Linked DNA regions of Homo sapiens: region 2 is linked to region 1. Evidence: fine-mapped expression QTL. A gene starts in region 1. The other region holds a variant in brackets. All regions are shown on one strand. Distances are from middle to middle. Region 1 holds the start of NHSL1 (NHS like 1). Region 2 has its middle 48 kb from the start of NHSL1.

The links. PIP is the estimated chance that this variant, and not a neighbour inherited with it, causes the effect. A credible set is the group of variants that fine-mapping cannot tell apart.
Region 2: its variant is the best candidate, but not a certain one, in a credible set for the expression of NHSL1 in fibroblasts (GTEx, PIP 0.64).

The regions. Positions count from the first base shown.
Region 1 is chr6:138,497,601-138,501,997 of GRCh38, forward strand. It overlaps NHSL1 (NHS like 1), which reads right to left and starts at 1,894. Exons shown (of 8, transcript NM_001144060.2): 1 at 1,633-1,894. The coding sequence starts at 1,690.
Region 2 is chr6:138,545,725-138,550,121 of GRCh38, forward strand. It overlaps a transcript of NHSL1 not described here. Among named protein-coding and RNA genes, the nearest start is that of NHSL1, 48 kb to the left of the region's middle. The variant C/T (reference allele first, on the strand shown) is at 2,577.

The sequences.
Region 1 (4,397 bases):
AGTTATTAGGGCTACTCTAAAGATCAAATGAACCAATATACATAAAGTACTTAGCTCAAGAAATAACTCAGGTAAAACATGGTTGTGGCAGGAACAGTAAAAATTATTCTAACGAGGCCCCAAACTTTGAACTGTCACTGTCTCTTGTAAACCTGGGCCACATGCTAGCGCTCATCTCACATACCATCTTTTCTGCAGCTACTAAATTTTACAATCTTATGAATCTGAACAGGATAACTCATTTTCAAAAGGACCCCACCTTCTCCGTAAGTTGCTAAATGAGAAAATAAACATTGAGAACTAGATATCAAGTTAAAAACAGAAATGTCCATTGTGCTTTCTGCTTAGTATTTGACAAAAGCAGTATGTGAATTTGGCACCTAGTATTTCATGTAAACTCTTGTTGAGCAAATGTTTTGCATGGTGCATACAACTATCAATCTTAATACACAAAATCCACAAAGACCTGACTTAACCCTCATTTGTGTTTCAGAAGAATCTAGCATTGGGCCAAACTCACCATATGTCCCCCCAAAGTGTAGCCAGAGTTCATCACAGTGTTTTGTGCTGATGTCCATTTATTTTAAAGACTGAGTTACCATACTTCAGAGTTAGAAACTATTGAAAATGGAAACTTTTCCTATTCGACAATTTCAAATCAAATCCAAGTAATGGCATTCGTGTCTGCACCATCAATCGCACCATCGGCCCCACTGCACAGCTACCAACTGGCTCCTATGAAAAAGTCTCTTCCCCTCGTGTTCCTCACTCTCGCCAGGGCCACTTTTAATCTGTTCATCCAAAGGCAGCCTTTAGCAAGGAGCTGCAGAAAATCAGCCCACCGTGCTGCTCTTTGTAGCTTTCTCCAAAGCTCCTCTTACCAATGCCCCTACCCATGTTCATTTATCCAGTATAAGTCACTGGTCCAAACACTAAACTAAACTAAAATAAAATAAACCACCGACTATGTAAAAACAAAGCCAAGTAGTTATAAAAATTATTATTTTCAAGAGAATGAAGAAGCACCTACATTAAAGAAATGTAAGTCAATGGTAAGTACACAATAAAGCCACATCACAAAAGTTCTGTACCTTACAACAATCACTGATCAGTCTAGACAGTTTGTGCTCGAGCTCTTAAATACACAACAAAGAGTGCCAGGGAGTTTCAGGGGATTATCTCCACCAGAAATATGTGATACATTACACAGAGGCTCCCTTACCTCAGCTGCATATTTATCCAAAGAATCAAAAAATCATACACTTGATATCAAGGGAAACATAAATTAAGTACAAGAATTTCCCCCCTCTTCAAAGGACTTCTTTTGAAAAGCACAGAAGAAGTGAATTCACTTAAAACCCCAATCATAAATAAATAAGACATGCTAAGATCACATAATACTGTCCTAGAGTTACAAAAGTCTGAGGTATTTAAACAACCTGGTATAGAGTAGAGTTTAACTCATGCCTATTACGCTGTTTCACACTCTAATTTCTTCACACAAAAGAACGAAGGACCTAAAACACACACATGGACACACACACACACACACACACACAGACACACAGGGACATATACACATATGGAAACATATGCACACAATAGGTAGTAGAGAGAAAAGGAACTACTTACTTTTCTTCTTAAAAAGTTTAATTAAAGACTTAATCTTTGCATTAATGAAGACCACCATTTCCAGGGCACCTACATAGAGCTTAGAAATGTAAATCACATTAAAAGCTCAGCCCAGTAGGCAGGTGGCAAGCTTCGTCCTTCTGCTACAGATTCTAACTTTTTCTTCCCCCGGTCTCATATCCTTAGACATCTGCCCAGGCTGATGTAACTGAGGTTGAGTTTATTGTCAGGCAGTTACAAACCATTAACAGTCCTTGAACCTGAAAAACTCCTACTGAAACCTAATCTTTAAGGCTGAGAGCAGCCAGTGACATCGTGCGCTGAAAGAAAGAGAAAGCCAATCACGGTTCTTATTTGCATGACAGCCACATCAGGCTTTCTGCCTCAGTGCCCATTCATTCAGTTTTCTCTCCAACAGATCAGAAGTTCCTCCTCTCTGAGCCCACAAAAATAGTGCAGACTTTCCTCTACGGAAGTCAAGATGAAACAAATGTGTTCCCCATTTCATTAGGCCCCTATGAACACCCAGATCTTTTACAGGAGCTGCCAAGTCTGACAGCAATTCCAGTTAATTCAGGGTATATGGGATTTGAACTGATTTAGGGGGGAAAAAAACCAAACTATTGTTTCCCAACCACGCCCCAGGCTCTGCCTCCGATACCAAAGGAACTTGTACAAGCAGTAAAACTTTAGAATAGAATCTCCAAGGAGCTGCAAATGATGACTTGGTTGCATTTTTGTGCAAATTAGGATGCTCTGTCTTCTCACCCTTCTTTGCCAGTGATTGAGAATCAGCATTGTGTGTTCCAAAGCATGATCTTATTTGCATCTAGCTGCCACAACAATCAAGAAAAAAAAAAATCCACCAAAAAAAATACAACTTCCCCACTCCAAATGATAAATTAGATAAAGTACCCTAATCATTTTAATCTTTATTTTATATGTAATTGTCACTTAGGCTCCTGGTTTTCAGAATTCCATAATCGCCCTTCCCTCAATGTTGTCTCAAACAAACATTATCTGAGTTACTCTTTAACTTGAATCTACCATCCAGAGTGCTGGTTCTTTTGCCCATTGGCAATTAACCACAGAGAACTAGGGAAGCACAAGTAGAGACAGAGAAATCAGAAACAGAGTATAAGAAGGCACTGAAAAAACATATTCCAGGGGTAAAGGGATAGGAAAAAAGAGGAGAATATAGATCCGGAAATACTATGACAACGGAAAAAGGAAAAGAATCTTCCTCACATCTCAGCCCAGTTCCACTTCATGGCCAAACACTTTTGAAACAATTTAGACAACCTCTTATTTCATAGCTTTGGGCCAGACTTATAACTCAATGGAAAAATGTAATAATCCACTAATTCAAAACATTTAGTTTATAACAAAGGCTCTTAGTCAAAGAATAAAATTTATATAAGGGGCTCTGTCTAGGGAAAGCTTTGAAATGATTCCTTCTCAGGTCTTTTTATGCCCTTTATTTTTTCAACAACAACAAAACAAAAGAACACATAGGGGAAAGCTTTGAAATGATTCCTTCTCAGGTCTTTTTATGCCCTTTATTTTTTCAACAACAACAAAACAAAAGAACACATAGAAACGTTACCATCTTATCATACATATTATCACAGATTTCCAATTTGTGTTATTTCATTTTATATATAGCTTTATTTTAAAGTAATTAAATTGCCAGATGGCAAATGAGAAACGACTGAGCCTGTAAGTCAGATTATGTGGCTGCCTTAAATTAGCGGGCAAAGTTCCCCTTTGGAAAACAAATTTATCTGCAAGAGTGACCTCGCTCTGCTCATTGCATTAGACACAAGGAGAGTTGTGGGCAAAAACACTCATATGCACAATCCACAAGTGTTTGAGGTTAAGTGTCACCATGCAAATGTCCAGTGAAAACAGAAATTGTTCTTTCAAGAAACTCTGATTATGCTCAACCCTCCATAGCATGTAGCTTTCCATGTGCTCAACAATGGCATCTGAATATAGATTCGTTCATCAGAAAGATAAATACCAGGCACCGATGCTAACTGCTACTCTTTCATTTCATTGGGATACATCATTGGACAAAATAGGTGAGATCCCTGCCCTCATGGAGCTTAAATTATTTGACACTGAACTACAATTTTGTGGTATATTAGAAGGAGTTGAGTGCAACAGACAAAATAAAAAAGTTAAGCAACATAAAAGGGGGTTTGAGGGTGGCCAGGCTGCAGCATCGTAGGAGTCAGGGTGGTCCTCGTGAAAAGTCGAGATTTGAGCAAAACCTTGAAGGAGGCAATGGCAAGAAAACAAAACTGTGTAATGAATCTCACTGGCTCTCATTTTAAAGAGAGAGAGAGAGATTCCTCAGGCTGTGAGACACATTTCCATCCCCCAGGACTAGAGAAGTGCTCTTTCCTCTCAGAAAATGAACTGTAGGAAGAATCTTGCATGGGGTAATTTCCTTTCTCACTCAATATTAAGTGTGATATAAAGTGGCCGCAGTTGTTCCTCTGTATCCATTCCAGGATGCCCCTTGGATACAAAAATCCTTGGATGCTCCAGTCCCTGATATAAAATACTGTAGTATTTGCATGCAACCTATGCACATCTTCCCATATACTTTAAATCATCTCTACATTACTTATAGTACCTAATACAATGTAAATGCTACGTAAGTAGTTGTTATACTGTATTGGTTTAAAAATATGTATTTTTTTTATTGCTGCATTACTTTTATTGTGGTTTTTTCCCCAAATATTTTTGTTCCATGG
Region 2 (4,397 bases), 48 kb after region 1:
CAGCGCTCACTGCCAGAGAGCGGGGCGGCCAGCCAGCGCCTGTTACTCCAGGAAGCCACTGCCCAATCCCCAGCCTGCTGGGCTGTGCTGCTGACACCTCCCTATCTCTCCTGGGTTATTTCACACCATGGAATCAGCCTGCAATCATCTTGAAAGGGGAAAGGAGCCAGGGGTTAGCAGTCACCGTTCATATAGTCCAGTGCAGATCAGCCCAAGGGCGAGCCCATTTGTTTGTGCTTCTCTCTCAGCATTTTCCACCACAGCGGATGCAGCTCTTCACGTGATCAACAACACAAAAAAGAAATCACTCAATTCAGTTTAACCTTTTGCTATTAATTATGACTTACTATTCACTGACTTCATTATTCCTTTTCTGTTCACATGCTCCCCTTTTTTTTCTAATATAGAACACACCATATACTGGTACATAATTAACACTGCACATTATAATAGGAAACTTTGCACTCTGTTGTCTGAGTCTACGTAAATGAGTGAATATATGTGAAATGCTCTTTCAGTCCCAGACAAATCATAAGCACAAAGTAAGTGCTATCATTACTACTACATACTGCTATTTAAAAACGGGGCGGACATGGTGGCTCACACCTATAATCCCAGAACTTTGGGAGACCAAGGTGGGAATATCACTTGAGCCCAGGAGTTTGAGACCAGCCTCGGCAACACAGTGAGACCCCATCTCTACAAAAAAAAAAAAAAAAAAAAAAAAAAAAAAAACTAGCTGGGCATGGTGGCATGCACCTGTGGTCCCAGCTACTTGGGAGGCTGAGGAGGGAGGATTGTTTGAGACCAAGAGGTCGAGACTGCATTGGGCCATGATCACACCACTGCACTCCAGCCCAGGCAACAGAGTGAGACCTTGTCTCAAAACAAAAAACAAACAAACAGAAAACAAGAAAACCACTTGAGTATTAGGATAAAAATGTGAAGCATGTTACACTTCTATGGCAATGTCATTTTTTCAAATGAGGAAACAAATGCAGCATTAGAGTACGAGAATTTCTAACTGTACTGTGGCTGTGATCAGATCAGTACATTTCTTCCCCTCCACTGGAAAGCTAAATTCACTCTGGCAAGTTCAAGGTTACTTGACTGTGGACTCTCAAACACAGGTGGAAAGTGGCAGAAGGAATCTTATGACAGACCTGATGAGAAACAGTCCACAAATACTGCCTCAGGAGCACCCTGCTTGAAAAGTACCATCTGAACCCTAAGTGGCCCCGTGGTCCTTCCCCACAGAGACGTGAGTCTCCTGGCTCAGGAAGTGGCCATTGTTCACAGGACCCGTTGCTGTTTGCAGGTCTTCCTTTTGACTCCACAGGATGCAGGAAACTGACTCACAGAACCAATCTATCTATCTGTCTGTGTCCTGGGGTGCTCACTGCCACACAGTAAGGATGCTCTATGTTCTTTTGGTTTTCAACATACGGTGCAGCATATCCCAGCTGGGTTTCTGCTCCCTGTCACCATGAATCACCAATAGCACCTGGGTAATAAATATGTTGTCTACCATAAGGAAGTCACTGTACTAGTTTCTATGATCACAAGAATATATAAGAGGTCTCTAGCCAGAAGCTAGTTAGGATTAAAAAAAAAAAAAACTGCATGGGGAATGATGAACAGTGATATTAACGCTTCTTCTTCTTTTTTTTTCCCCTGAGAGGGTCTCACTCTGTTGCCCAGGCTGGAGGGCAGTGGTGTGATCTCAGCTCACTGCAAGCTCCGTCTCCCAGGTTCTCGCCATTCTCCTGCCTCAGCCTTCCGAGTAGCTGGGATTACAGGCGCCCGCCGCCAGGCCCGGCTAATGTTTTTTTGTATTTTTAGCAGAGACAGGGTTTCACTATTTTAGCCAGGATGGTCTCGATCTCCTGACCTTGTGATCCACCCGCCTCGGCCTCCCAAAGTTCTGGGATTACAGGCGTGAGCCACCATCCCCGGCCTGATATTAACTCTTAGAACAGAATGGGAGGGAACCTCATAGCTCATTTCATTTGTGTAAACCATGAGGTGATTGATTCACCTAACAAACAAGATCAAAACCAGACCAGCTGATTAGCCTCTTCCATCTCACCACGGGACTCTCTCCATGGCTGATCTGAGTTATTCTCTGTCCTCTCCTGTTCTGAGTAGTCTCTCCCATGTAATTTACGAATTACAGAGGTATTCCTGAAAATATTTTCATGGGTTACATTTAACTTTTCAAATTGTACAGAGAGAGAAAGGAACTCCTACCTTAGAGACTTAAGACTTTTGAACACAGGCTAATGAGACCGAGTCTCACTCTGGCTGGAGTGCAGTGGCACGATCTTGGCTCACTGCAACCCCCACCTCCTGAGTTCAAGCAATTCGCTGCCTCAGCCTCCCAAGTAGCTGGGACTACAGGTGCCCGCCACCATGCCCGGCTAATTTTTTTTTGTATTTGTAGTACAGACAGGGTTTCACCATCTTGGCCAGGCTGGTCTTGAACTCCTGACCTCGTGATCCACCCACCTCAGCCTCCCAAAATGCTGGGATTACAGGCGTGAGCCACTGCACCTGGCAGTTTAAGCCTTTTTAAA[C/T]AGAGATGACTTTATATGCTGGAAAGTATAGTGGACTGAAAAGTAAAGAGAATCTCATTCCAGTCATATCTATATGACTATCTAGTTCAAGTCTGTCCAACCTGTGGCCCACATGCAGCCCAGGACAGCTCTGAATGTGACCCAACACAAATTTGTAAACTTTCTGAAACATTATGAGATTGTTTTGCAATTTTTAAGTTCATCAGCTATCATTACGGTTGGTGTATTTTATGTGTGGCCCAAGACAATCCTTCTCCTTCCAATGTGGCCCCAGGGAAGCCAAAAGATTGGATGCCCTAATAGTTAGTCTCACAGCAGTTCATGGCCTGTAAATGTGAGGACTGAATAGAACAAGGGGACTAAATTAACTCTAAGGTTCCATCTTAACTCAATAATTTTTTATTTTTGGTATGAATACACACACATACTATTAGGTACATTATGTCAGGTCACAGGAAAAGAATCTTTGCCTTCTTGTGGTTTAGTGCAAGAGATGAGTGGAATAAATATAATTCAGTGTGGTAAGTCACATAACAGAAGAATACACAAAATTAATAATGATCAATGGTAGTTCTTGCCTACTGCCATCTCATTAAGCTACTCTCCTAAAGTTAAAGCATATATAATTTAATGTAGTGGGTTGAATAGTGTCCACCCCAAATTCATGTCCACCCTCAGAGTGTGAACTTATTTGGAAATAAAGTCTTCATAAGTTAAGGAAGGTAAGAATCAAGATGAGATGATACTGCATTAAGGTGGGCCCTAAATCCACTCACAGTGTCCTAATAAGAGAGAAAATGGAGTCGGGCATGGTGGCTCATGCCTGTAATCCCAGCGCTTTAGGAGGCCAAGGCGGGTGGATCACCTGAGGTCAGGAGTTCGAGACCAGCCTAACCAACATGGAGAAACCCTGTCTCTACTAAAAACACAAAATTAGCCAGGCGTAGTGGCGCATGCCTGTAATCCCAGCTACATGGGAGGCTGAGGCAGGAGAATTGCTTGAACCTGGGAGGCGGAGGTTGCAGTGAGCCAAGATTGCGCCATTGAACTCCAACCTGGGCAACAAGAGCAAACCTCTGTCTCAAAAAAAGAGAGAGAGACAGAAAAGGATACAGAGACACAGTGAAGGTCATAAAAGATGGAGGCACAGACTGGAGGGATGCTGTCACAGATAAGGAACACCTGGAACCAGCAGAAGCTGGAAGAGGCAGGACAGAATTCTCCCATACTGCCTCTGGTGGGAGCAGGACTCTGTTACCACCTTGATTTTAGAACTCGGGTTTCCTAAATAGGGAGAGAATAAACTGGTTATTTTAAGCCACCACGCTTGGGGTAATTTGTTACAGTGACTCTAGGGAACTTATACATTTAGCAAGGTAATAATTACGTGAGATGGGCATGATTTGTTTTTCTTTTAAATCGTCTTCAATTTATGTTTACATAGGCTTAAAACCTATTTTTTCCATACCCTTGTACTTACTGCAGCAAAATGTTATAGCACTTCTAAACAGCACACATACCAACCTCTATTAAATTGCTGAAATTATAGGTATCACTATCTGAAAACTTCACAGCATTAACCTCGAGCAATGACAACAAAAGGGGTTTTTCTTAATGTCAAATATAAAGTTATCATATTAAAAAAAAATCCCTTGTGGGCCGGGCACAGTGGCTCATGCCTATAATCCCAGCACTTTAGGAGGACAAGGCAGGCTGATCACCTGAGGTAAGGAGTTTAAGACCAGCCTGGCCAACATGGCGAAACCCCATCTCTACTAAAAATATAAAATGAGCCAGGTGTGGTGTCGTACACCTGTAATC